7 linked regions of the Homo sapiens genome follow. The protein of the gene in region 4 purifies or fractionates together with the protein of the main gene of each other region. This does not show direct contact. Each region holds a gene or a part of one and is shown on either strand. Other genes may lie near its edges. The genes, in order: SP3, PPP6R1, CKAP2L, PDGFRL, MOCS1, HS3ST1 and RBM6.

What was found.
Region 1: the proteins of PDGFRL (region 4) and SP3 purify together in Homo sapiens (affinity purification with mass spectrometry; one large-scale study listed by BioGRID and IntAct). This does not show direct contact.
Region 2: the proteins of PDGFRL (region 4) and PPP6R1 purify together in Homo sapiens (co-immunoprecipitation; one large-scale study listed by IntAct). This does not show direct contact.
Region 3: the proteins of PDGFRL (region 4) and CKAP2L purify together in Homo sapiens (co-immunoprecipitation; one large-scale study listed by IntAct). This does not show direct contact.
Region 5: the proteins of PDGFRL (region 4) and MOCS1 purify together in Homo sapiens (affinity purification with mass spectrometry; one large-scale study listed by BioGRID and IntAct). This does not show direct contact.
Region 6: the proteins of PDGFRL (region 4) and HS3ST1 purify together in Homo sapiens (affinity purification with mass spectrometry; one large-scale study listed by BioGRID and IntAct). This does not show direct contact.
Region 7: the proteins of PDGFRL (region 4) and RBM6 purify together in Homo sapiens (co-immunoprecipitation; one large-scale study listed by IntAct). This does not show direct contact.

What each region holds. Positions count from the first base shown.
Region 1 is NC_000002.12:173,962,574-173,966,773, forward strand, and holds the start of SP3 (transcription factor Sp3), read right to left. Parts: upstream 2,801-4,200; 5' UTR 2,599-2,800; coding exon 2,592-2,598; intron 1,981-2,591; coding exon 1,832-1,980; intron 1,311-1,831; coding exon 1,188-1,310; intron 1-1,187. UniProt on the Homo sapiens protein: Transcriptional factor that can act as an activator or repressor depending on isoform and/or post-translational modifications. Binds to GT and GC boxes promoter elements. Competes with SP1 for the GC-box promoters.
Region 2 is NC_000019.10:55,238,518-55,242,017, reverse strand, and holds part of PPP6R1 (serine/threonine-protein phosphatase 6 regulatory subunit 1), read left to right. Parts: intron 1-378; coding exon 379-541; intron 542-626; coding exon 627-779; intron 780-938; coding exon 939-1,073; intron 1,074-1,717; coding exon 1,718-1,782; intron 1,783-1,903; coding exon 1,904-2,019; intron 2,020-2,041; exon of another isoform or gene 2,042-2,106; coding exon 2,107-2,192; intron 2,193-2,334; coding exon 2,335-2,424; intron 2,425-2,515; coding exon 2,516-2,613; intron 2,614-3,500. UniProt on the Homo sapiens protein: Regulatory subunit of protein phosphatase 6 (PP6). May function as a scaffolding PP6 subunit. Involved in the PP6-mediated dephosphorylation of NFKBIE opposing its degradation in response to TNF-alpha.
Region 3 is NC_000002.12:112,747,610-112,751,109, forward strand, and holds part of CKAP2L (cytoskeleton-associated protein 2-like), read right to left. Parts: intron 1-3,500. UniProt on the Homo sapiens protein: Microtubule-associated protein required for mitotic spindle formation and cell-cycle progression in neural progenitor cells.
Region 4 is NC_000008.11:17,580,216-17,583,715, forward strand, and holds part of PDGFRL (platelet-derived growth factor receptor-like protein precursor), read left to right. Parts: intron 1-3,500.
Region 5 is NC_000006.12:39,931,663-39,935,662, forward strand, and holds the start of MOCS1 (molybdenum cofactor biosynthesis protein 1), read right to left. Parts: upstream 2,801-4,000; 5' UTR 2,756-2,800; coding exon 2,633-2,755; intron 2,562-2,632; exon of another isoform or gene 2,364-2,561; intron 1-2,363. UniProt on the Homo sapiens protein: Isoform MOCS1A and isoform MOCS1B probably form a complex that catalyzes the conversion of 5'-GTP to cyclic pyranopterin monophosphate (cPMP).
Region 6 is NC_000004.12:11,426,095-11,430,204, forward strand, and holds the start of HS3ST1 (heparan sulfate glucosamine 3-O-sulfotransferase 1 precursor), read right to left. Parts: upstream 2,801-4,110; 5' UTR 2,605-2,800; intron 1-2,604. UniProt on the Homo sapiens protein: Sulfotransferase that utilizes 3'-phospho-5'-adenylyl sulfate (PAPS) to catalyze the transfer of a sulfo group to position 3 of glucosamine residues in heparan. Catalyzes the rate limiting step in the biosynthesis of heparan sulfate (HSact).
Region 7 is NC_000003.12:49,967,650-49,971,149, reverse strand, and holds part of RBM6 (RNA-binding protein 6), read right to left. Parts: coding exon 2,402-3,500; intron 1-2,401. UniProt on the Homo sapiens protein: Specifically binds poly(G) RNA homopolymers in vitro.

The sequences.
Region 1 (4,200 bases), on a different chromosome or scaffold from region 4:
TATTCACATCCCCTATAACGAAGCACTAAAATTACAAATTATTTACCAGTAATAGCTTAACATTGGTTTAACTTAAAAAAAAAAAATACCTGGACATACTAAGCATTTGTTGTAGACTATACCAAATACCAAACTTCTGTCTTCAGTGACTATTGAAAGTATCACTCCACAAATCAATTCCTATGATCCACCACACACACACACTCAAATGAGGGTTTTCATTATTTTAATAGGTGAACAAATCTACACAACAGTGATGACCCAAATGTAAAATTCACAATTAACAGTCTAAAAACTGTTCCTATCCTATTGGTATTAACCCCTCATATAACACAGGCGAGCTCCTCCCCTTGCCCAGACACTGAAAACACTACAGAAAGAATCCCACCATATCTTACCTGACTAGCAGTCGTAATAAAATGAAAACATACTTTTGCCAACCAAATTCAGCTATAAGTATTGTACTACTAGTATGCACGTAAATACAATTCCTTACACATACTTTTCTAACACTGTTATATTCAGTTTCAAAATCTAAAGTACTATCTAAGCAACTTGCTGATTTCAAAGGCTGCTAAATGTTTCATTTACCCCCCTTACAAAAAAAAAGTCACTGCAAATTTTAGTAGTCTGCAAAAACTAAAATTCAACGATTTTGAATGGTCAACTAAAAAAGCAGTCTTCACTCCTGCATACAAAAGGGTAATTCAAAGAATAAACCCTCATTTTTTTTAATAATGTATGATTTAAAGCAGTAAGATCCTGTAACGTCCAACAGAAAATGCTCCAGGTTCAAAAATAATAAAAACTAAAGACATTGCCTCTAGTTGATACTATCTATGGCCGATAGGCTGTGCTTGAAAATTTTGTAGTGTTAAGCGAAGGAGTTTTCAGCACTGATATGAATTGCTCAAACATCCATTTTGGAGTCCTCTACCCCCGCCCTCTCAGACTTCATTTTGTGAAGATTTTGCGCGAGGTGCTGCAGTGACAATTTCGAGAAAGCCTGGGCTGGCTTCAGATCCAAACCGGGATGCGAAAGAGCAGGAAAGGGCGCCCTGGAGCCCAGCGGCCCGTGCGGGTCGGGGGAAGCGCGGGCGCCGGGGAGGCCTTTTGGGCAGGCGCGCCACGGGTCCGGGATGGCGGGCGCCCGGCCTCGGCGGGGGCGGGCCGCGCGCGGGACTTACCGCTCCGGCGGCGGCGGGGGCCCCGGCTGCGGCGGCCGCCTCCTCCTCGTCGTCGCCCGGCGATGGCGGCCCTATCTTGCTGCAGGTAGCGGCCAGCAGAGCGAGCGGTGACGGCTGAGTGTCCTACCCCCAATGGGCGGGTTCAGAGAGGGAGACAGGGGGAGGGGGTGGCGGTTAGGGTCGGGCCGCCTTTCGCACAGGAAGTACGACTCGGTCCCCGCCGACTGCGCCCGGGCAAGCGCCAGCCCGCGCTCTCCTCCTCCTCCTCCTCCTCCTCCTGGTCCCGCCGCCAGCCCACGCCTGGCGTCCCCCGCTCCAAGCACCCCGGCTCCCCGGTCCGCGGGCAGGCGGGCGGCGGGCTGCGCGCCGGGCCTCCGCCTTCCGCCCGGAACCCACCCCCGGGAGGGCACGCTGGGGCCCACACTCACACGCGCACAAAAAGGCGGCAGGCGGGCGAGGCGGGGCGGCGCGGGCGGGGTCGGAGCGTTGGCGCCTCGGGCGGGCAGCTCCCGGGGCGGGGGGAGGGGAGTGGAGGGGAGGGGAGAGACGAGGAGGGAGGGGTGAGGCGAGGAGGGAGGGGAGAGGCGAGGGGAGGAGAAAGCGGCGCGAGGGGGGAGCCGGGCCGGGGTTCAGCCGCTCCTCACCTGGGCCGCCGCTGCCGCCGCCACCGCACCGTTTCCGTGCTGTTGCTGCTGCTGCAGATACTCGCCGTGGCCGCCGCCGCCGCCACCGCCGCCGCCGCTATCCACGTCCAAGGCAGCCATTTCCTCTTGTTTCACGGGCTTTTCGGGAGCTGCAGGCACAGCGCGGGGGGGTGGGGGTGGGGAGGAAGGCGGGTGGCGGAGAGGGAGGGGGCCCGCGGGCCGAAGCGAAATTACTCCCAAAGCCCGGACCCAGGCCCCTTCCCCTCCCCCACCCGCCCCCCGGCGGCGGCGGCGGCGGCGGCTCCCTCCTCCCCTCCTGCTGCTGCCCCCGCCCGCCGCTGCCTGTAACCCTCCTCCTCCTCCTCTTTCCCTCCTCCTCCTCCTCCCCGCGCTGCCCCTGCCCCCTCTCCTCTCCTCCCCTTTCCCTTCGCGCCGCTCGCTCTCACTCGCGCTCGCTCCTCTCGCACCGTCAGTCACTCACACACGCCCGCCCGCGCCCGCACACAGGGGGATGCGCTCCCGGCGGACCGGGCCGCCCGCCCCGGGGCCTGGCGGGGAGACGGCGTTGCTGGGGCTTCGGGGGTGGACGGTGGCTGGCGGGGAGGGGAGGGAGGCGCAGGGGAGTGCAGCTTTCTGCCTCTCACAGACACTCGGTCGCACACACGGGGCCGAGACCGGCGGCAGCGGCCCCGGGCTGGCTGTGGTCGGCGGCAGCGGCGGCGGCGGCAGCAGCAAGGGTTGCTCTCTCGGCTTTACGTACCGGTCATAGTGTGTTTAGGGCACCTCAGGCGGGGCTCCCCGCCGCCTTACACATGGTGAGGAGCGAAGGCGGCGGCGGCGGGAGAGGATGCGGGAAGCGGCGGCGGACACGGCCGGAGCGGTCCGGGGATTTTTTTTTCCTATTTTGATTGACTGTGCGGGAAACACAAAAGGTGGAGCCTCCAGCCCAAAAGGGGGGAAGAGGGTGACAGCCCGCCCGGAACTCCCGCCCCTCTTCTTGGCTCTCATTCGCCGCCGTGCTCTTTGTCGGCTGTGCTCATTGGTCCAGGCGCCTGTCCGTCGGTCTGCCAGGCGGCGCGCTTCCTGTTTGCCCCCGGGTGGAAGGGGAGAGACAATGAGCGGCCGTGGCAGCGTAGGTTTTCGAGAGCGGCTACGGCTCGCCGGTTACCCCGCTGTGCCCGCCTCCCTCGCCGGCTGCCGCTGCCAGGCCCGAGGCGCAGGCCTCCTCCACCTTGCAGGCGCTCGGAGCAGGCCTAGCCAAGCTGTAGGGGAGCTGAGCTGGGGAGGAAATTCGTCCCCGGTGACTCCTGCTCCACTGGACGCTTCCTCCATCCCGGCAGCAGTCTTGGCCGGATCTCCCCAGGGCCTCGCGCTCTTGGAGCCGCCGCTTCCCTGCGCTGCCAGGAGGCCACCGCTGCTCAGCCCCGGGGCTGCTGCTGCGGCCGCTGCCGCTACTGAGCAAACCAGACCCGCCCCACGAGCCCGGGGGGAGGGAGCTGGTATTAGGGGAGACACCCCCTCCGAGGCTGGAGGAGGATTTTTCTCTCTCACATCCAGCTTCCTGATTCAGTCACAGCCATCTCGCTCCCAGCCCCCTTAGCCCCAGTTTTCCAACCGGTCTCCCACTTTCACGTACCCTGAAGGCAGGCATTTAAAGCAAAAAAGAAATCTCAAGTCACCTCACATACGGAAGGAGAGTTTTAATTTTGGCCAGTGGCACCAAAACGGGCACTTAAAAGTATATTTCATTTTACTTGTGGTATGTGTATGTATTCAGTGGGGCAGAATTCTGTGTTTTAAAAAATCGGTCACATAACCATTTTGCTGCACAAACGTATTATTCCCGGCCTCTTTATCCTCTTGGTACCAAGTCAGATATCTCCTGAAATAAGCCCATCAACCACTGCCAACGTTTTTTAAAGTCGTGAACCGGTGAACTACCTTTTTTCCCCCATTGGAACATTTTTGTTGTATTTTAAAATCTTGTTTCTCTTACTGGATTAGGTTAACACTCCTTCCTTCTTTGGCATCCTTGGTATCTTGCTGTCATCCTGGGGGAAAATGCTCAGGTTTTAAGTGTGTGTTTTGCCAACTAAGAGACATCTCTCCCTGTTACCTTCAAGTATAGTTGCCAAGAAAGAAGTTAAATTCAAGAGGTGGAAACACTGTCCACAATACCTGTTTTTTAGAAATCTGGCTCAAGATTCAGTTTTCCCATTACTGTGATTATTATATTTTGTGTGATATGTGATGTGCTGGTGGATGAGGTTGTGAAGTCCAAGCACTTTAACCAGATTTTGTGTGTCCTAACTTAATAGGTAATCCATTTGTGAGATACTGAGTTTACATCCCAGTTCCAAAGCACTTAA
Region 2 (3,500 bases), on a different chromosome or scaffold from region 4:
TACGGGGCCGAGGGAGGAATCTTCTTGTCTGCTTTGACAAGTGAGGGCACTGAGGCTGAGGCCACTGCTGCAGCTTGTGTTGGGAGGGACCCCAGGCCCCCGTGCCCCTGCCTTACCACACAGGCCGCTAGCCTGTTGGGTTTGCCTTCCCGCCTCCACCCCTCACCCGTGCTCTCACAGTGGACTGCCAATGCTGCCGCCTGGCGGGCTCCCCACCCCAGCCAGGTGTTGTCTGAAGGGCCTCAGAAGAGAGCGGCGCTGGGGGCATGTGGCTCCTCGTTTTCCTCCAGACCCTGCAGACGTGGTCCTTGTGCCTACTCCTGTGTGGGCGCACAGGCCATCTAGGCTCACTCCGCCTTCGACCCTGCCCTGCTGCAGGTCCGAGTCCGTGACCGTGAACAGCTTCTTCAGCAGTGTGGATGGGCAGCTGGAGCTCCTGGCCCAGGGGGCCCTGGAAAGCACTGTGTCCAGTGTGGGCGCCTTGCACGCCCTACGCCCGCGGCTCAGCTGCTTCCACCAGCTCCTGCTGGAGCCTCCCAAGGTCAGGGGTGTGGGTTCTGGTCCTCGGGGAGGCGGGGGAAGCAGGAAGGGCAGCCCTTGGGAATCAGGCCTCCCTGTGTCTGCAGCTGGAGCCGCTACAGATGACATGGGGCATGCTGGCTCCGCCTCTGGGCAACACGCGGCTGCACGTGGTCAAGCTCCTGGCCAGTGCCCTGAGCGCCAATGATGCAGCCCTGACGCACGAGCTCCTGGCACTGGACGTGCCCAACACCATGCTGGTGCGGGGACTGGACCGGGCTGGGGGTTCAGGGGCTGGGGCGGGGACTGGACTGGGCTGAGGGTTCGGGGGCTGGGGTGGGGGCTCGGCTGGGGGCTCAGGGGTTGGGGGCTCGGCTGGGGCGGGGCCTCTCTGGTACCAATCCTGTGTCCTCCCATAGGACCTCTTCTTCCATTATGTCTTCAACAACTTCTTGCATGCCCAAGTAGAGGGATGCGTGAGCACCATGCTGAGCTTGGGGCCACCTCCTGACAGCAGCCCTGAGACGCCCATCCAAAACCCTGTTGTGAAACATGTGAGCTGGGACTCCCTGGTCCCCCTCCTTCTGGGCCCATCCCCTGTGGGCGCACCCTCTCCAGAGGCCTACCCCTCACTCCTTCCTCCCACAAGTGTTTGTTGGGTAGTGTTAGGTGCCAGCGCCCAGATGGGGTGTGGGAGGCATGGCCAGGGAGAAACGCGGATGAAACATGCAGGTGCAGGGAGCAGTGGGCTCCTGACTTGAGCTGAAGAGCTAGGGGTGGGCGGGAGCAGACCTGCGAGCAGCTGAGTGTGCATGAGTGCGCACACGTGCGTGTGTGAGCATGTGTCAGTGCAAGCGTGTGTGAGAGCATGTATGTGTGTGAGTGCACACGAGTATGTGAACATGTATGTGTGAGCATGTGTGTGTCCGTTAGTGCATGCATGTGTGTGTGTGTGTGTGTGTGTGTGTGTGTGTGTGTGTGTGTATGCACCACATATTCTTTTGTAGAAAGACCAGAGAGACTTGGGTGGATGCCAGGGTCCCAAGCCCCAGCTTGCATCCCTCCTTCCCATCCCCGTCTCTGGATGAGCGGGGGCCTGGTGAAGCATCTGCTGAGGAAGGGACCCCTGCTGCAGTGCAGAGCTCCCCACATGTGTGCAGACCACCCCTCCAGGCCATCCTGTCCCGCTCTCCCGCAGCTGCTGCAGCAGTGCCGCCTGGTGGAGCGGATCCTGACGTCCTGGGAGGAGAACGACCGTGTACAGTGAGCACCTGCTGCCCTTCATGTCTCCAGGGGCTGGGGCTGCCTGGATGGGGGGCCGGGCTGGGGCTGGGCATCCCTGGGTCCAGTCCTGGCTTGCAGCCGCGGCCTTCACTCTTGCCAGGTGTGCGGGAGGCCCTCGGAAAGGCTACATGGGTCACCTGACAAGAGTGGCCGGTGCCCTGGTGCAGAACACGGAGAAGGGGCCCAATGCAGAGCAGCTGCGGCAGCTGCTGAAGGGTGAGGGTCCCCAGGCCGGCCTGAGGGCTAGGTGGGGGGCTTGAAGCCCCGAGATGCCTCACGTCTTCACCCCTCTCACCTAAGCAGAGCTGCCCAGCGAGCAGCAGGAGCAGTGGGAAGCCTTCGTATCGGGGCCCCTGGCGGAGACCAACAAGAAGAACATGGTGGACCTGGTGAGGCCCAGCTTCTCTTCCTGCACTCCTCCTGCTGCTTCTCTCTCTTGGGCCAGTCTTAGCCTCCCACCGCCACCGATAGCTGCCTGCCCACCCTGGTCTGGGGGCTCCAGCAGGCCCTGACGCCCCCTCCTCTCCCCAGGTGAACACCCACCACCTACACTCCTCCAGTGACGATGAGGACGACCGGCTCAAGGAGTTCAACTTCCCTGAGGAGGCTGTGCTGCAGCAGGTGGGCGTGGGGCTATGTGGGGCTGTGCTGGGCTATGCTGGAGTGGGGTCCTGCCCAACTCCCTCCAGCCCTAACCTCCGCACCCCCACAGGCCTTCATGGACTTCCAGATGCAGCGCATGACCTCTGCCTTCATTGACCACTTCGGCTTCAATGATGAGGAGTTTGGGGAGCAGGAGGAGAGTGTGAAGTGAGTGTCTCCTGCGCAGGGTCACAGCCCTGTCCTGCCTCTGCAGCAGCAGGCGCGCCTACTTGTATCTGTCCCCTGCACGCACCTACATGCCCTGTGGGCTCAGCCTGCAGCTGTGGCCCCTCCTGGGCACGCGTTGGCCGTGGCCTTGTGTGTGTGTCTGCAGCCTCGTGTGTCTGCCTCCTGTTACATGAGTTCCAGCTCTGCAGTCTCTTCTCTCCGAGAGGCAGGCCATGAGGGTGGGGCACAAACATCTTCTGTGCTGGGGACACAGAGCGGGTCCCTCCCACTCCTGGAGCTAGCCTTAGGGGTTCCAGGCGGGAGGGGCTCAGGGTAGTGGGGACCAGCAGTCCTGGCGCAGGGACTGTGGGGCAGAGCTGCACCTCCATGGATGCCCTCTGGCTCAGGAGTCTGCCAGACATGGGGGTCCAGTTTTCCCCTCCACAGGCCTCGGGGTAACAAAACTTTTTTTTTCCAATTACCAATTCTGCTTGTTTTGATTTGTGGGTCAACCACATCTTAATATCAGTCACCTCTGGGTGTTATGATCATGAACTTTTCTGAGTTTCTTGCCACAAGCATCTGTTGCTTCTGGAGTCAGAAAAAAGTGGCTGGGCGGAGTGGATCACACCTGTGATCCCAGTACTTTGGGAGGCCGAGGCAGGCAGATCACCTGAGGTCAGGAGTTCGAGACTAGCCTGGCCAACATGGCGAAACCCCATCTCTACTAAAAAATACAAAAATTAGCCAGGCGTGGTGGCAGGTGCGTGTAGTCCCAGCTACTTGGGAGGCTGAGTTAGGACAATCGCTTGAACCTGGGAGGCGGAGGTTGCAGTGAGCCGAGATTGTCCCACTGCACTCCAGCCTGGGCAACAGAGCGAGACTCT
Region 3 (3,500 bases), on a different chromosome or scaffold from region 4:
AGCAGGACAGTGACATGGACCCAACGAATGGGGAGCACTACCATGCCCAGAAATCCAGGTACTGGCACACTCAGCCAAGCAGCACCTTCTACTGCTAGAAATGGGGGAGACGCAAAGGTAAGTTCACAATTGAGAATCACTAACATTTGAGAAAACCAACACTACATGAAAGAGGCATAAAACTCAACAAACAAGAATGAACACTGGAGCAAAGAGGAATACTTTTAAGAGTATCACAGTCAATATCTTCAGAGTGATAAGAGAGAGTATTGCTATCCTAAAACTAGAATGGGCTGTTATGAAAAATAACCAACAGAAAGGCAGAACAACTGCATGGACAGCGCTGAAGAATACATCTGTGAGCTGAAAATTCAGCTGTGAAATCCTCCTAGAAACCAGTGTAATAAAACAATGAAGTGAACAGTATGAAAACAACATTTAGAGTTCTGAAGGATATATCCATTACTCAATAACTCCAATATCCATCTAAGAGAGTTTCTAGAAGGAAAAAAGTTCAACACACAAAGTGGTTGTAGAAGAAGAATTTCAAGAAATGAACAAAGAAACAGTTGTTCAGGTTGAAAAGGCTCTCAGATAGTTAAGCAGGATGAATGGGAGAAAAAAATATAATAGAAAACCAAAGATAAAAAGAAAATCGTACAAGCTTCCAGAGAGGGGGAAGAAAAGGATTACCTATAAAGGAATGAGAATCAGACTGACGTGAGACATTAACAAATCAACAACTCCAGATGCAAGAAAGAAAATGAAGCAGTCACTTAAATTTTTCCAGGGAAAACAAGCTGAAATTAAGAAATTTCCCCCAGCCAAACTATGATTCCAGCATGAAGGCAAATAACAAGTTTCACAAGAATACAGACTCAAAAGGTTTGCCATTCAAAAATCATAAAGTCACTAGTGAGTAAACTTTAGAATTCACATGAAAGACTTGAAATAAAAGTAACTGCAGGCCAGGTGCAGTGGGTGGTTCACACCTGTAATCCCAGCACTTTGGGAAGCTGAGGCAGAGGACTGCTTGAGGCTAGGAGTTTGAGACCAGCCTGGGCAACACAGTGAGACCCTGTGTCTACAAAAAAATGTAAACTATAATGGGTGTAGTGGTGTGTACCTGTAGTCCTAGCTACTCAGGAGGCTGAGGTGGAGGATCACTTGGGTCCACCCAGGAGGTTTAAAGTTGCAGTGAGCTATGATGGCATCACTGCACTCCAATCTAGGCAAAAGAGTGAAACCCTGTCTCTTAAAAAAAAAAAAAAAATGAAAAAAGGAACTGCAAGAAGAATATGATATATATTCTGCAAATCATGTTTGAGCTTACATCTATCACTTTATTTTCATTTCAGTGTATTATTTTATGAAATAAAACTAGATTAAACACAGAAATGAGGAAAAAATAATTCATGTAAGCTGAATTACAAAATAAAATAGCAGGCATAAGTTTAAACATACAAGTAATCATAATAAATGTGTACGAACTAAATTTGCTTTTTAAAAGCAGAGAGTTTCAAATTTGTTTAAAACATTTAACTGTGTGCATTTATATGAGACATACCTAAAATAAGTCAGCCCATGAAGGCTTAAAGTAAAGGGATGGAAAAAGAGCTACCAGAGCTACCAGACATATTCTAACAACAAAAAGCAGGTGTGGCAAGATTAATCAGACAAAAGAAATCAAAGCAAGTCATGAATCTTTCTGTACCTAACAACATAACTTTAAAAAATAGAAAGTAAAAATTGACAGACATATGAAGAGAAATTGTCAATGATTAATCACAGTGCCAGTGACAGACTTTGGCATATTTCTTTCAGAAAGCAATAGATCAAATAAACAAATAGGATATACATTATTTTCAAACACTTTTGGAACATTTACCAAGAATGATCAGATATTAAGGCCACAAAGAAAATTTCAACAAAATCCATCAAGTAGAGTACACATAGGCCACATTCACCAACTACAATGCAATATAATTAGAAATTAACAGCAGAAAAAAAAAATCTACACATCTGGAAATTAAAAGATACTTTTCTAAGATATTTTTTGGGTTAAAGAACTCAAAATGGGAATCTCAAGCTATTTAGAAATGAACAATGACAAGATATGTCAGTTATGAAGCTTTTGTCTATTGGCCCCAAACCCCATCCTCTGCTTTGTGATGCTGGGGATAAAACTCTGTAAAACTTTCTGCTGGGCAGCAGCTCCCTGCTCAGCTCTGCCAGCAGGGGGCACGAGAGGGAGGCTGCAGGGATGGAGAAGGAAGACACTTGCTTCTTCCTATTTGCTTTCATCACCCCAGCAACGGTCCCTCACCCTGGCAGTAACAGTTGGTTCTAGCATCTTTTTTTCCCCCTCAGAGCCCACCTCCCTGTGCAGCTTCAGAGCAGAAGCACCAAATGGATAGCATCTTTTCCTCAAAATCTGAGCCCCAGCCCTGCAGGGCCTCTCCTCCATCATCTGCTGGGTAGTATGCCTTCCTTACAGTTGGAGTCCCATTTCTACCAGGGTTTGTCTCTCCTGCTTCTTGGTTCTGATACCCTAACCTCTCTTTGTTCTCCTAGACCCAGTGGGTACAAGCTGCTTCCTACAGTTATCACATTACCTCAGGTTCCTGTGTGCTGTCAGCCCTGTGTGTAGCACCCACACTCCTTCTGATCCCTTCAGCATCTTGTGCACACAGGCTTACCGCGTGCTTTCACAGCCAGCATCTGTGCTCCCTCGTATGTGCCCAGAGAGTGAGAAGTGCCTGACAATTCTTGTCCGCCCGAGGCAGCCATGAATAAATGACCATGGAAGCTTTAACAATGTAGCTCCCTTGCCTCTGATCAGGATGACTCTGAGAGATGTGACCTACACTGTCTCCAGAGCTCCCCTGTGGGGCTGTGCCAGAGTCACCGTCCATGGATTCGCTTTTCTGATCCTACAACTTCACTCCCCTCCCAGTTTTCCCTGGAGTGTCTTCCTAATAAACTACTTTCACATGGATTCTCCTCTTAGGCTCCACCTCTAGAGAACCCACATAAGATACTGTGTAACCAATTACATTCTTTCTGTGGTTTGTTTTTCAGACTTGATCCTGACTGATAAAGAGTATTACTTAGTCAAATCTGAGGGATATGACCAAAGTAAAATTCAGAGGCAAATCTGCTATAGCACTGAACATATTTATAAAAAAAAAAAAAAGAAAGACTCACTTTTAAATGATCTAAGGTTTCAATTAAAAAGCTAGGAAAAGAGCAATAAATATAAAAATAGATGCAGACATTGATGCAAGAGAAAAAATAATCAATAAAACCTGAGGTCTTTTAAAAAGATTAATGAGAAAAAATCTTTGGCAATAAAACCTGAGATCTTTTAAAAAGATTGAGAAAAAATCCCTTTAAAAAGTCACAAAATTACTAAAGTTGACTCAAGATATATGAACTCTAGAACAATGACCCCATAACAAATTGAGAGGATATATACAAAATTATCCTCCAAAGAAACA
Region 4 (3,500 bases):
GTCTGAGAGCAATATAGCCAGATCTCTAAGAAGGTAAGGACAGAGACACAATGACGAGGATTCTCTAACCAAGAGCCTTTGACACTTTCGTGTCTTCGTTTATTTTTGAGAAAAAAAAAGAGTAAAAATTAGTACAGAAATATTTTAATGAAAAAAAGAATTCTAAAGTTCCTTATTGTTTATGAATGCACATAATGAATGCTTTGAAGCATTTAGGATCTTGGCTGGCATGTTTGACATACAAAACCATTTCTGATCCTTAAAACACAGAAAGAGAAAAGTTTGAGGGCAAGAGAGAGAGATCTGGTGGTCAGAGGACTGATGGTTTTCAAACCTAGACAAGGTTTTAAAACCCTTTCTTTGTGGTGCTCAATGAAGGGAGAGGAAAGATAAAGAAGTAAAGATACAATTTAAGGAAGTGGTAAGTGGCATCGAGAATCATGAATCAGGGTCTATTAGGTTCCTAGGGCTGCCATAACAAAGTACCACGGAATGGGAGGCTTTAAAACCGCAGAAGTTTGTTTGCTCACAGTCCAGAGGCTTGTAGTCCAAAGTCAGTGTCAGCAGCACCACACAGCTTCTAAGATGCGGGTAGAATCCTTCCCTGCCTCCACTAGCTTCTGGTTGTGGTCAGCAACCCCTTGGCATTTTTTTTAGCTTGTGGCCACATCACTCCAATCTCTGCCTCTGTTGCCATGTGACCATCTTCTCCCCGTGTCTGTCTTTACATGGCATTTTCATACGTGTGTGTGTGTGTGTCTCCTCATAAGAACATCAGTCCTATTGGAGGAGAGCCTACCCTAATGACCTCATGCTAACTTGATTACATTTGCAAAGACTCCATTCCTCAATGAGGTTACATTCACAGATACCTGGGAGTTAGGACTTCAGCATATCTTTTTAGGGGACACAATTCAACCAGTAAGACAGGGTGAGACATGGAGAGGACTGAGGCGGGGTGTGAGGATGCCGTTTGAATGGATAGCCATAAGCCTGCCTGAAACAAGGAAGCAAACCCCGGAGGTAGCTGACAGCAAAGCTGTGCACTCCAGGGGCACCACAAAGGCAATAGCTTCAAGATGGGCTTGTACCGGTTGCCAGTGTGGCTGTGGCTGTGATGCGTGGGACGGGAGCTGGCCAAGCCTTGTAGGGCATGGGAAGATTTAGGGCTGGCTTCTAGATGAGATGAAAGTCACTGGAGGCTTCTGAACGAAGAAGTACCCATAATTTGATTTATGTTTTCAAAGGTAGGTGCTATGGTTTGCCCCCACCACATCTTATGTTGAATTTTGATCCCCCATGTGGTGGTGGTGGTGGGAGGTAGGGCCTCATGGGAGGTGTTTGGGCCTTGGGGGTAGATCCTTCATGAAGAGATTAATGCCTTCCCTTGGGGATGTGTGGATTCTGTATTATTTCCAGCAAGAACTGCTTGTTAAAGAGAGTCTGGTCCCTCCTCCTCCCACCGCACCATGTGATCTCTGCACTGCTAGTTATCGTTGCCCTCTGCCCTGAGTGGAAGCAGTCTGAGGCCTTCATTGGAAGCAGATGTTGGTTCCATGCTTCTTGTACAGCCTGCAGAACGATGAGCCAAATAAACCTCTTTTCTTTATAAACAACCCAGCCCTACGTATTCCTCTATAGCAATGCGAAATGAACTAACACAGAAAATTGGTACCAAGGAGTGGGATATTGCTATAAAGATACCTGAAAGTGTGGAAGCAGCTTTGGAACTGGGTACTGGGCAGAGAATCGGAAGAGTTTGGAGGGCTCAGAAGAAAACAGCAAGAGGAGGGAAAGTTTGGAATTTCTTAGAGATTGGTTATATAGTTGTGACTAAACTGTTGATAGAAATATAGACAGTAAAGTTCATGCTGACAAGGTCTGAAATGGAAACAGATAACTTATTGGGAGCTGGAGAAAAGTCACCCTTGTTAGGCCTTAGCAAAGAACTTGGCTGCATTGTGTCCATGCCCTAGGGATTTTGGAAGGCCACACTTAAGAGTGATGTCCTAGGGTATCCTAAAGAAGAAATTTTTAATCAGCAAAGTGCTCAAGTAGTGGTGGGTGTGGCTGGGTTTAAAAGCTTAGGATCAGCCGGGCAGGGTGGCTCACGCCTGTAATCCCAGCACTTTGGGAGGCAGGCGGATCATGAGGTCAGGAGATCGAGACCAGCCTGGGCAACATGGTGAAACCCTGTCTCTATTACAATACAAGAAGTTAGCCTGATGTCGTGGTGCGCACCTGTAGTCCCAGCTACTTGGGAGGCTGAGGCAGGGGAGTCGCTTGAACTCGGGAAGAGGAGATTGCAGTGAGCTGAGATCAGGCCACTGTACTGCAGCCTGGTGACAGAGTGAGACTCTGTCTCAAAAAAAAAAAAAAAAAAAACTTAGGCTCAAGATCAATTACAGCAGCAAAGGAATGACCTAAAGGTAGAATTTATTATGAAAAGGGAAGCAGAGAGTAAAAGTTTGGAAAATCTGAAGCCTGGCCATGTGGCAGAGAATGAAAGAGCATTTTGGGAAAAGAATCCAAGGGCACAGTTGAGAGACTGCTTGAATCATGCTAGTAGCTAAGAAAATAAGAGAAAGGCCTTATAGCCATTTTGGAAATCTTTGAGGAGCCCCTCCCATCCCAGGCCCAGAGACTCAGGAGAATAGAATGGTTTTGGGGGGCAGGCCCTGCTGCTCTTCTGCCGTGCACCACCTCGGGATGCTACTGCCCCTATCTCAGGTGCACCAGCTCTAGCCTTCACTTAAAAGGTCCCAGGTGTGGTTCCAGATGGGCGAATAAGAGCAGAAGAGGCCAATAAGCAGAACAGAGAGGTTGCTCCAGAGGGCACAAGTTATAAATAAACCTTGGAGGCTTCCACATGTTGTCAAGTCTGCATATTCCCAGAATGCAAGAGTGATGGAGGCTTAGCTTCCACCTAGATTTCAGAGGATGTATCAGAAAGCCTGAGTGTGCGAGCAGAAGCCTGCTACAGGGGCAGAACTAACACAGAGAGTCCCTACCAGGGCACTGCCTAGGGGAGCCATGGGAACAGGGCTCATGTGGGGATCCCAGAATTAGAGAGCCACCAGCAGTATGCACCCTCACCTTGGAAAACAAACAGACATTCAACTCCAACCTGTCAGATCAGCCATGTGGGCTTCACCCAGCCAAGTTAGAGGGGTGGGGAGGGCGAAGGCTTGTTTTTGATTTTCCAGGCTCACAGCTGTAAGGAACTTGCCTCAAGCTCAGATGAGACTTTGGACTTTTGAGTTGATGCTGGAACAAGTTAAGATTTCGGGGACTATTGGGAAAGGATGCTTGTAATTTGCAGTATTTGAAAGACATGAGTTTTGGGGGGCCAGAGGTGCAATGCTATGATTTGGATATTTGACCTCCTCCTAACCTCATGTTGAAATTTGATCACCAGTGTTGGTGGTGGGGCCTAATGGGAGGTGTTTGAGTCGTGGGGGTGGACCCCTCATGAATGGCTTGTTGCCCTCCTGGAGGTA
Region 5 (4,000 bases), on a different chromosome or scaffold from region 4:
CATTCTCCCTCACCAGTGCCTGCTGTACTCCTTCTACCTTCACCCACACCCACTTCCTTGCAGCCTAACCCCTAGCCAGCATTTGTTTTTTCTGGCCCCCTGAACAGATGGGTGCCTTTGCCTTGCCTAGACTCACCCTCCCTGCTTCCCCCGCCACAGGCAGCAGGCTTCATTGTTGCCCAACAAAGCCTGCATGGAGCCTCAGAGGGAGAAAGAGGGATACAGCACTCCCAGGCTAGGCTGAACCCTACAAAGATTGTCTGGGCCACCCCAGATGCAGGCTGGCAGGTTGCTGTGTCTCCCCCACCCACCTCCCCATTGACCCACACACTACTCCTTTCCATAGCTAGAAGCTACTCGACCTGTTCTTGGACTCAGCCCACAGCCCCCTTTCCGCAATCCTCACAGCCAGCTCCCACTTAACCTCACTTCTCTCCCTCACACCCTCATCCTGCCACACAAACAATGCCCAGTGGCTTTCCATCCTAGCTCTCCAAGCACCTCCCATCCCAAACCAGACTACCAGAGCCCTGTGTGGGCGTGTTGGGGGAGACAGACCCTGCAAGAAGGGGTTCAAGGTGTCCCCACCCCAACTGGCAAGCTCTGGAGATGAGCAGAACATATCCATTTCCAGACTCACCTCCCCTTAGAGTCTCCTCAAGACAAGTTTCTGTGCCCTCCCCCATCTTATGATGGGCTGGCCCAGTCCTCTCATTTTATAAACATGAAGCAAAGGGAAGTGACAGCCCCAGGAGCCAGGTGAAATTGGAGGCGAAACTGGCGGGTGAAAACATGGGACTCCCTGTCCAGTGTGGTCTACTATGCCACGTGACTCCTCACTAGTTAAGTTTCAAGCAGCTACAATTATTGGCTGAATCCACTGCCTGCACAACCCTGCGTTAAGCGCTTGTGGGGATAGAAAGGCGGAGGTGCACCCAGCCCTCAGGAACTCCCAGTCTGCTGAAGATAATCCTAATGAGATGTCCAGGATTCAATGTGAGTTGACAGAATAGCTATCCAACAAGTCCAGATGGGAGGGGACTCACAGGACAGAGCATGTGCCAGTGGCAGCATGGATAATAGTAATTACCACCAACATTTACATAACACAGCACTTACATGGGCTAAGCTTTGTTCTAAGTATATACGTTAACATACGTTAACTCTTTTAATCCCTGTGACATCCTATGAAGTAGACACTTTTATTCTTACTTTGCAGATGAGAAAACAGACACTGAGAGGTAAGGGGACTTGGTGAATCCCTAATAAGGGATGGGGCTGCCCCAGAGTCTATGTTCTCCTTTCTGCCACATTACCCCTCCCTTCACAGTGTAAAGGGATGGATAGGAGCAGGCTCTCTCCCTGGCCTCCACACAGGGAGGACGGAAAAGCATTAGAGTTGAGTTCCTGCCCTCTACAGCTCTGCGACTGGAGGAAAGTTAACTTAGATTAGCCCCCTCATCTGAACATACAAACTCTACTCACCTCACATGGCTTAGTGAGGACTAAATGCTTCCACATGTGAGTCACTCAACACAGGTTCTCTCATGAAAGACCAGTACAAAATAAACTAGGGGGTGGGGGGCTGGAGAAGAAAAGTCCCTTTTCTTGAATTCTTTAAAGATCTCTCAGCCATCTTTGCTTTCCTATCTCTTCCTCAATGATGTTCAGAGTTTGAGGATACTAAAAAGTCTTCACTTCCCAACCATGGGCCTGCTTATCTGAGGATCCCAGAGGGGCTTAGATTTGGGGAAAGCAAATTTGGCGGAAGTCATTGAGCAATATAGGGGAGGAGGGAGCAGTGATCTTATGAATCCCAGGACAGGAAGCCTAGTTCTGGGAGACGGGGAAAAAAACGCCTAGATAGGTACCGAAAAGAGGTTTCACTAAATGAAAAGAGGTACTTTTCCCCCCAAATTATTCCCTAACCACCTGAGCAGAAGAACAACCAAAACCTAAAACTTTTAATGACTTGAAACACTCTGAGGGGTGCTGGCAAGGACTGAGGGATCTTACCCAAAACCCTAAAGACAGAGGAATTAATTTCTCACCTGGAAGAAGCCACGTCCTGCCCTGTTCTGCTCTAGGATAAGGCTGAACCCTCCCAAGGTTAATAAAAAAGACAAGGAGAGTCAGCAAAGGATGGGTTACAGAGCCCTGGGACTACAGTAACAACTCATCGTTGGTGACACCGAGGTGACATGTTTAGTCAGTCGCACTATGAAGCAGGTGTCACAGGGACACCTGATCTCTCAGCTCTTGGGATAGGGAGGGAAAATGTTTAAGAAAGAGGGTGGGTGCAAGGCAAGGCTGAAAGGTACTAAGACACCTCACTGGACCCAAAGTCCCAGTCCTCTGCTTACCCGAATTTCTGGCCAAGCTCAGGGCTAGAAGGGGTGGCGTGGCTGGGGGGCAGGGAGGTTCTGAAGCGGGACTCCCAGGAACCTCTCCCGCTGGGCTAGCGGGTGAGACCGGGCGGTCCATCTGGAGAACATCGCTCCACTGAGGAGTGCCAACGGGTCCCTCCCAGAAGCGGTCAAGCAGATAGGCCGGGAGCTACTGGGGGAAAAGGGCAGTGTGCCGGGGCCACTCCTGCCCCGGGAAGCTGTGGACGCAGGCGGGGTGGGCTCACCTCCGAGGCAGCTCGCGCGGACTCCCCGGGGCAGGGCTGGGTCACCGGAGCCCCTGAGCTGCAGCTCCGGGCGCTGGACCTCAGAAGCCGCCGCAGCATCCGGGACAGTGGCCGCGCCGCCATGAAGCCTGATACGAGCGGAACCGCAGCCCGCTTCGGGAGCACACTGGCCGGGCACTCGCCCCCGGGGTCATCCCAGCAAGGGCGGGGAGGGGCAGGGGGAGGGCGGGACCCGCGCAGCCAATAGGCGAGGACGCAGTCCCGCGTGGCCTTGTGGGAGCTGTAGTACGCTCCCTGTGCCCACTTTCCTGGGCCGGGGTAGCGCTCTAGGGCAGAAGGGTAAACTCAGGTAAGGAACGGGGTTCTTTTCCTTCCAGTTTTTCTGGCTGCTCTAGTCTCAGATTTAGGTCGTGGTGTGACAGTAGGCAGGACAGGACAAGGGCCAAACGAATGAGGCACTGCCTTGGATGCAAAATTTAAGAGGGTGCCAGGTAAACTGCGGTTATCAAAGTAAGTAATTTTTTAATGTAATATTTCAAAAAATCGTAATAAATTTTCAGAAGTCCGTGAAATATCAACATTCTAAATAAAAAGATTTAGCCTACACTTGCATGACTCACATCACTCAGTGCACCATAGTGCAGATTGTGGTTGTAAAACGGTCAGTTAGGTCTTTCAAGATACACTTCTCCAGTTGTGCCCCAAAAGGATATTAACAATCTTTTTTTTTTTTTTTTTTTTCGTGGAGAAGGCAAGAGTATATGAGAAGTCACAGAATGAGTGGACAACATTTTTGAAATGCTTCTTATACACCAAGCACCATGCTAAATGTTATTTAAAACAATCCTGGTATGAATAGAATGTCCTTTTTGCAACTGAGGACATTGAGGCTTAGAGAGACCAGGTAATTTTCTCGAAGTCACACAGCTGATAGTGGGTTTCAAACCCAGGGCAATCTGCTTTCTACAGTCATTCAGTCAAGATTCAGTATGTGTTAGGAATGGTGGGGTGTGCCTCTTCCTCTCTATAAAAAGCAGAGTGCTGTAGTCCTTTAAGATTTTGGATAACACACACAATAATGAGCTTATGTACTAAGAATAATTATGCTCAAACCAGCCTGTTGTATCCAAAACCCTGTCCCTGTGGAATTGCAAGAATAAAACACCGGCTGGAACATACAGCTGCCAAGTGCATGCTTAGGAAGTGGGAATATAGCTCCTGATCTTGAAGAATTGACCGAATAGTGGGAGAGGAAAAAATAACTGAATATAACTGACTTTTACAAGTGCAGTGGGACTGTCAGAAAAGCTGAGATGATTTTAGCCTTAGATTCAATGTGAATTTCTCACAATGATACTCAAAATTCAG
Region 6 (4,110 bases), on a different chromosome or scaffold from region 4:
CACTGACCCAGCCTACAGGCTCAATTTCATCAGGACACCAGATACATCTTACTGTGCCTTCCTCCAAACTTTAGCCCCCATAGACAGACATGATTTAGCAACCACGGTGGGGATATGCCATTGTGGGTAGCTGCTATGTTCTCAGAAAGGCAGTGTGCATGAGTGAAGCAATTTACACCACCCAGGCCATCTTTCTAGCCCCTTCCTAGTCACCATCGAGTTTCAATTCAAGGCAAGAGAAGCTTCCATGTGGCTTTTCCCTTCAGAGGCCCCCCCCCCAACCCTCACAAGATTTTTCCAGTAAAATAATTTCTTATTTTAATAAGAAAAGTACATGCTCCAACTTTTAGGGGGACCCAGGGGGGGGGCTTGAGGCTTCATTCTAGACATAACCACAGGAAAGTAAAGAACCCTTTGCTTTTTCCGATGCCATCTCAAGATGCCAATTTCTCACCAGCTTCTCAGAACAAAAATCTCCTATCTTAAAACTACAGAGCATTGTATACCCTGTGGCATCACAGAGGATCCACAGTCTAGAAGCACAGCTTAATAAGCCTCACTAAGGAATCTTCATCTATGCTGCTGTTGTAATTAACTGCTTCCACTTAAGAGTGCTTAGTCATGAAGTTGTCCATCCCTGTCAAACTCAGCTGAAAGAGTTAGATGGGCTAACCAAAACCTGGAAAGACTCTTTTAGAAGCTGTTCTTTCTCTGCTTAGCGCTGGAGAAAACCTTATGTAACACAATGGTCCATTTCAATATGTTATTTCTGCAATCCTGTGGGGGAAAATCTAAGCGCTGGATGTACAACGGGAAGGGTAAGGCAGGGATTTGCAGCGGAGCGCGCGTCTCCTGGAATTTCAGTAGGTAAGGCTTATTCTAATTGCACCCAGTGTTACCCAATATTACCAGGAATGCAGAAAGCAAGAAAAAAATCCGAACGTCAAAGGATGCGCTTTGCTTTAGAAATGCAGGGAGGCAGAAGTTGGGTTATTTCTCCCTCCTTTTTTTTTCTTTTTTTTTTAAAGATGGAATTCCTGGAATTAACCCTTGGGTGGAAGCATTTCAACAAAATAAAATGAGATTTGCCTGCAAAGCGAGAACGCACGGGTGGGAATGAAGGATCCTGCCTGTGCCAGGCTGCTGCCTCAGCAGTGTCCAAGCACCCAGCGCCTGAAAGCGGGAGCGTGGGGACTCGTCTGGGGACCCTCTTCCGGGGCTACTGGCGGGAGGCGCAGCCGAGCTGGTGGTGGCGGGGTTTCCCTCCGGGGCTAGGGCTGAGGGAGGAGAAGAGGGCGGACTGGCTCCTTCCGTTCTCGGCCACCCTCCCCGCCACTCCTTGAGGCTGCTCCATGCTAACAGGAGACTGTTTCTCGGAGCGCAGCGCAAAGACAGTGGATTTGGAGTGGCCTCCCTAGAATCCCCCCAAAAGCATCTTGGCACAAGTTGTAGATAAAAATAGCTCATGATAACATTGTGGGAAAGGGAGGAGCGAGACTCGCGCAAGGCGAGGCAAGGGTACCACTGGATCTGCAAAGGAGGAGGAAGAGGGAGGATGCAACCCTTGGCCCAAGAGAGCGCCCTGAGTGTGCGAGGAATCGCTGGCTCCCAGGGGAGGGAAAGAGATGGAAGACCTATAGCGCCTATAACTGCAGAGTTATAGACCTATAACTGCAGAGCCCAGCACACCCCATCCCGCGCCGGCACCCGGCTTTGGCTCCAGCTTCTTCTTCCCATCATCCGCCTACGTTCTGGGTCTGTCCTCCGCTTCCTGGGACAGGCTGGGGCTAGAAGGAGGAGCAGCGCGCCGTCCGCCCCCTGGCTGGTAGAGCGCACCTGGAGAGGTCAAGCTCCGCGAATAAGACCCTTCCTGGGAGCTGGGGTCTAGGCGTTCCAACCGCGGGTTCGCACCCCGCCATCCCTCACCTCCATCCGCTGCCACTACCCAAGGGCCCGGAAATAGAAAACCACGAAGGGGGAAAAAAATCAGTAAAAAGTAACAAGAAAAAAATCAAGACCCTCATGTAATTGGCATTAGGGATGAGAGGTTTATTGTCAGGGCTGTCACCTCAATCTCTCTCTTTGGGAGATGCCTATCTCCAACCAAATGCAAAGGCAAACCCGACCAAGGCTTCTCCACCCCCAAAGGCTCCCTCAGCCGAGTTACTTTTGCGGGCTGTGTCCTCGCCCCAGTTTCTGGCCCCAGGTGGTACCCAGGATCCGTTGAGTGCTGCGCTCTCGCTGCCCTACAGGGTCCTATGGTGAAGCTGCGGTCGCGAAGCGGCCGGCAGGAGCGAACCTCACGACTCTGCAGGGGGGGAAAACATCCAACCCAGTAAGAGTCAGAAATCTGGGTCCCTGTCCTTACAGATCAACCGGTCCCTCGGGACTTCCAGAGCAGAGGTGCTAGGGCAGGAGGTGAGGAGGATGGGAAAATCCCCAGCCTTTGCTTCCTGGTTCCCTCTGCATCCACTCCACCTGCTCCAGCCTCGATTCTTCTTAGGTTCTGCACTTGCCCGAAGTCCAGAACGCCAGACAAAGGCACCTCGGAGCCCTCTACACCTGCGTCCTGCCACTCTCCCACCCCGCGCGCGCCGCACTCACCTGAGCCGCGCCTCTGTCCAGCCCGTCCGGCGCCCTAAATAGGCTCCTAGGCTGGGCCATGGGCAGCACTGCCGAGCACCCGCGGCGGGTAGAGCAAGTTTCTGGATGGCCCGGGGCAGGCGGGCGGGGAGAAGGCGCAGGCACCCACTGAGACCCGGCTGTCGTGGCGGCGACTCCTGGCTGCCAGGGCGCAGAGGACCTTGCAGGCGGGCGTTTTGGTGCTCAATCCCGAGGAGGGGGAGGAGCGGGAGGAGGAGCGGGAGCAAAAGGAGGGGACGGAGGAGGCCGGGCCCGGAGGGAGAGCGCGTTGGGCAGAGGAGGATCGCGAGCGCCCACTGCTGCCCGGCCCGCTCGGGTGCCGCCCAGAGTCCGGCCCGCTAGGTGCCTGGTGCTCCGCTCTGCGCTCAGCTGCTCCGCACAGCCCCGCCTGGCACGCAGCTCCAGCGGCTGGTCGGGTAGTAGTCGGTCCCGCCCACCCGGTGCGGTGGCCCCTGGGGTTTCAGTCCAAGGGGAGGGACCAGCGCTCCAAGAAGGTGAGGCTGCTGGGATGGGTGACTCCGCCGTCACTGCAAACACGGGACGTCCCGTCTACTCCCTTACGCCTGCTTGGTCTGAGCCCGAGTCTACCTCTTCTCTAAGTCGCCAGCTCGGCACTTGTACCCGGGACCTGTGCTCCTCCCACGTGAGTCTGCACCATGCGTATTCCCTTCCTGGCAGGTGACCCACCTTAGGCGCTGGCGCTCCTTCCGCCCCCCGGGAAGCAGGAGGTGCCATCCTCTCCAATTCGCTCTGCAGCCGGACTGGGACCGGAGCGGCGGCCTGGGCCAGAATCCGCGTGAGGAGCCGGCTTCAAAGAGCGCCCTGTCGCCATTGAACACTCCTTTTCCTTTGGTTTAGCGTCGGAGAGCGGACGCCAATTTGCCAGGAGAGCGCGGAAAATTCAGCTTTTTTTTTTTTTTTTTTTTTTTTTTTTTTCCGCTAGTGCACTAGGATTGCAAACGTCAGCTCTGAAATAAAAAGCAGGATATTTCTGCCCCGCTCCTCTATTCCGGAAGCTGGGAGGTTCTGTGGGAGAAAGGACCTGCACCCAATAACTCAATTTAAGATTTAAGGTTTTGAGGGGCGTGGGGTTGGAATCGCCTTGGAGAAACGGGTTTGCCTGCTTACCTGAGCCAAAGGAAGTTGCCCTCAAAGGCAGGTCAGCAATCATACCCCGCCAAAAGCAAATGCACATCAAAGTAACTTCCTTTAAATGAGATTACTGTAGTTTCCATGTCTTCCACATTAGTAAATAAATATTTGGAAGACTTCGAATTTGTGATTTACGTTTAAATATATTTCACCAACATTGTTTAATTAAAAAAAAATCCCATCTAAGAGAAGGTTCCTATAGGAAATTGGCCCTTTAACTCATACACAGATTACCCTCGGCACTTTCAGAAAACAACACAGTGACCAGTATATTCTGTCTTTTTGATACAGCCAGAAGCACCCTGAAAGCTGAGA
Region 7 (3,500 bases), on a different chromosome or scaffold from region 4:
GGATTACACACATGCATCACTACGCCCAGCTAATTTTGTATTTTTAGTAGAAATGGGGTTTCTCCGTGTTGGTCAGGCTGGTCTCAAACCCACGACCTCAAATGATCCACCTGCCTCAGCTTCCCAAAGTGTTGGGATTACAGGCAAGAACCACCACGCCTGGCCTAATTTTTGTTATTTTTAGTAGAGATGGGGTTTCACCATGTTGACCAGGCTGGTCTTGAAATCCTGACCTCAAATGATCTGCCCACCTTTGCCTCCCAAAGTGTTGGGATTACAGGCATGAGCCACTGTGCCTGGCCTTATTTTTCTTCCCCACCCTCACATTCTCTCCTGAGGTTGCACCACACTGGTCTCAAGTTCCTGGCCTCAAGTGATCCTCCCACCTCAGCCTCCTAAAGCACTGAAATTACAAGCATAGGCCACTGTACCCAGCCAAATCTACTTTAAAAGAGAATACCTTCATTGTAAAATTACAAATATAACCCTCCTTGCTTAAATCATATATTCAAGAAGTTTAACATTTAAGTTAATTACGTTAGCTGCAAGAGGATAGTTGCAACATTAATATCAGCTCTTCACAACTAGGGAGACTCCTAAGTATTCTCTCAATGAATTTAAATAAGAAAATGATCCCTAAACAATCACAGGTCTAACTAAGCGAGAGTTGCAAGAGTCAACTCCCAAAGACATATACTTTCAAACTAAATTATCCCAAGGCATGTAAATCAGCATCATAAAACAAAATAATGAATAAACACACATCAAAAGGGTAGGGGCAGTGGCTCATTGCTGTAATCCCAGCACTTTGGGAAGCTAAGGTGGGGGGACTGCTTGAACCCAGGAATTTGAAACCAGCCTGGGAAATATGTTGCAACCTTCTGTCTACAAAAAAATACAAAAATTGCTGGCCAGGCATGGTGGTGCATGCCTGAAATCCCAGCTCTTTGGGAAGCTGAGAAGGGTGGATCATTTGAGATCAGGGGTTCCAGCCCAGCCTAGGTAACATGCCTAAACTTCATCTCTACAAAAAATACAAAAATTAGTCAGATTTGGTGGTGCACAACTACAGTCCCAACTACTCAGGAGGCTGAGGCAGGAAGACTGCTTGAACACGGGAGGCGGAGGTTGCTGTGAGCCAAGATCGTGCCACTGCACTCCAGCCTAGGCAACACGGTGAGGCTCCATCTCAAAAAAGAAAAAAAAAAACACAACTAACTAGGAATGGTGAAATATACCTGTAGTCCCAGCTTCCTGGAAGGCTGAGGCGGGGGAACCCCTTGAACCCAGGAGGTAGAGGTTGCAGTGAGCTGAGATCGCACAACTGCACTTCAGCCTGAGCGACAGAGCAAGACTCATTCTCAAAGGAAAAAAAAAAAAACTAGCCAGGCATAGTGGCTGGCGCACATCTGTAGTTCCAGCTACTCAGAAGGCTGAGGTGGGAGGATCGCTTGAGCCTGGGAGGTCAAGGCTGCAAGGAGCCATAATTACACCACCGCACTTCAGCCCGAGTGACAGAGCAAGACCGTGTCTCAAATATATATATATATAGTTCCTTCATATATACACACACATATATACACAAATGGAAAGTGAAGCAGGAAGAAAAGAATAAAAGAAAAAAGAAATATATATATATAAATATATATTCATATATATACATATATATTCATATATATATATACACACACACACACATATATATGATCTGAGCTGAGGACCTTTTCTCTAGAGATTTACATTCCTACATTCCACTCCTGAATACAAATTTTGCTTTCTAATGGTTATGCAAAGATAAAAATAAAATGAAAAAAAAAAAAAAAAACTGGCCAGGCACGGTGGCTCATGCCTGTAATTCCAGCACTTTGGGAGGCCGAGGTGGGCGGATCACGAGGTCAGGAGTTCGAGACCAGCCTGGCCAACATGGTGAAACCCCATCTGCACTAAAAATACAAAAATTAACTGGGCATGGTGGCACATGCCTGCAATCCCTGCTACTCAGGAGGTTGAGGCAGGAAAATTGCTTGACCCTGGGAGGCGGAGGTTGCAGTGAGCTGAGATTATGTCACTGCACTCTAGCCTGGGTGACAGAGCAAGACTCCGTTTCAAAAATAAATAAATAAATAAATAAATAAATGTCATCCTTCACAAAAGTCTTATTTAAAGAAAAAAAAAAAAAGCAGGCCGGGCGCGGTGGCTCACACCAGGCGTGGTGGTGGGCGCCTGTAGTCAGTCCCAGCTACTCAGGAGGCTGAGGCAGGAGAATGGCATGAACCCAGGAGGCGGAGCTTGCATGAGCAGAGATCGCACCACTGCACTCCAGGCTGGGCAACAGAGCGAGACTCCGTCTCAAAAAAAAAAAAAAAAAAAAAAAAAAAAGCAATCCACCCCATCAACATACCTGAAGGTCCCGTTGGGCATCTCGGGCAGTTTTGCCCTCTGGAAAAGACTTGCTCTGGCCATAGCCAAACATCTGGCTTCCTGGCAGCCTATGATCCACATCACGGTACTCCATGCTTCTGTAATCGGTGTCTTGCCGCCCAAGAAAGTCCAGACCGCCTTCTTCTTTAAACAGACCAGCATCTGAACTCTGCTCTTCACGTCCAGAAAGCTGTGACTTATCTTGGTCTTGAACTGGACTTTGGCTGTTCTGAAAGTCTGCTGGAGACTCATGTTCAAAGGCTACACCTTGTGTTTCTCCTTCTCTTGTTTCTGAATGCTCAAATTCTCCCTTCTGAATGCCAAAAGCAGGCCTTTCTATCGTATGGTCATGTGTGGATTCTTCTCTCCTGTTCACATTCATACCAGAATGTTCTCTATCTTGTGTAGAGGGCTGAATGTAATCCAAAATATTTGGATCCACAGGGGGCATCTCCCTATCTTTAAATTCCATACAAGATCCCATCTCTCTGCCCCTAAAATCCTGATCAGTCCTAGATCGGTGTCTACCTCTGAAATCTGAATGTGGCGTATCCCTGTCCCTAAAGTCTAGATCAGTAGTACCTGAACCTCGGCCTCTAAAGTCTACTTGTGTTCCGTCTTTGTCTCTAAAGTCCAAATCAGATACATCTCTATTCCTAAAATCAGAACGGGACTGTTCTCTGGCCCTAAAATCCAAATCTGATAAATCCCTTCCCCTAAAATCTGCATGGGATCCATCCCGGCCTCTAAAATCTAAATCATAAGTGCCCCGGCCCCTGAAGTCAGATGGAGGAGCATCCCTACCTCTGAAGTCAACAGCGTGAGCATCCCTGTCTCTGTAGTTCATATGAGGTGCCTCCCTACCTCTATAATCCATAGAAGTACCATCTCCACCCCTATAGTCCATAGGTGGTCCTTCTCTATCCCGAAAATCCCCAGAATGTATGTCCCTACCCCTGAAGTCCAACTGTGATGAATCTCTGCTCTGGAAATCAGAAGACGAAAAATCTCCCCCCCTGAAATCATGTCCAGGTCCCTCCCCTCCTCGATAGTCACCATGCGGTCCGTCTCTAGCTCCA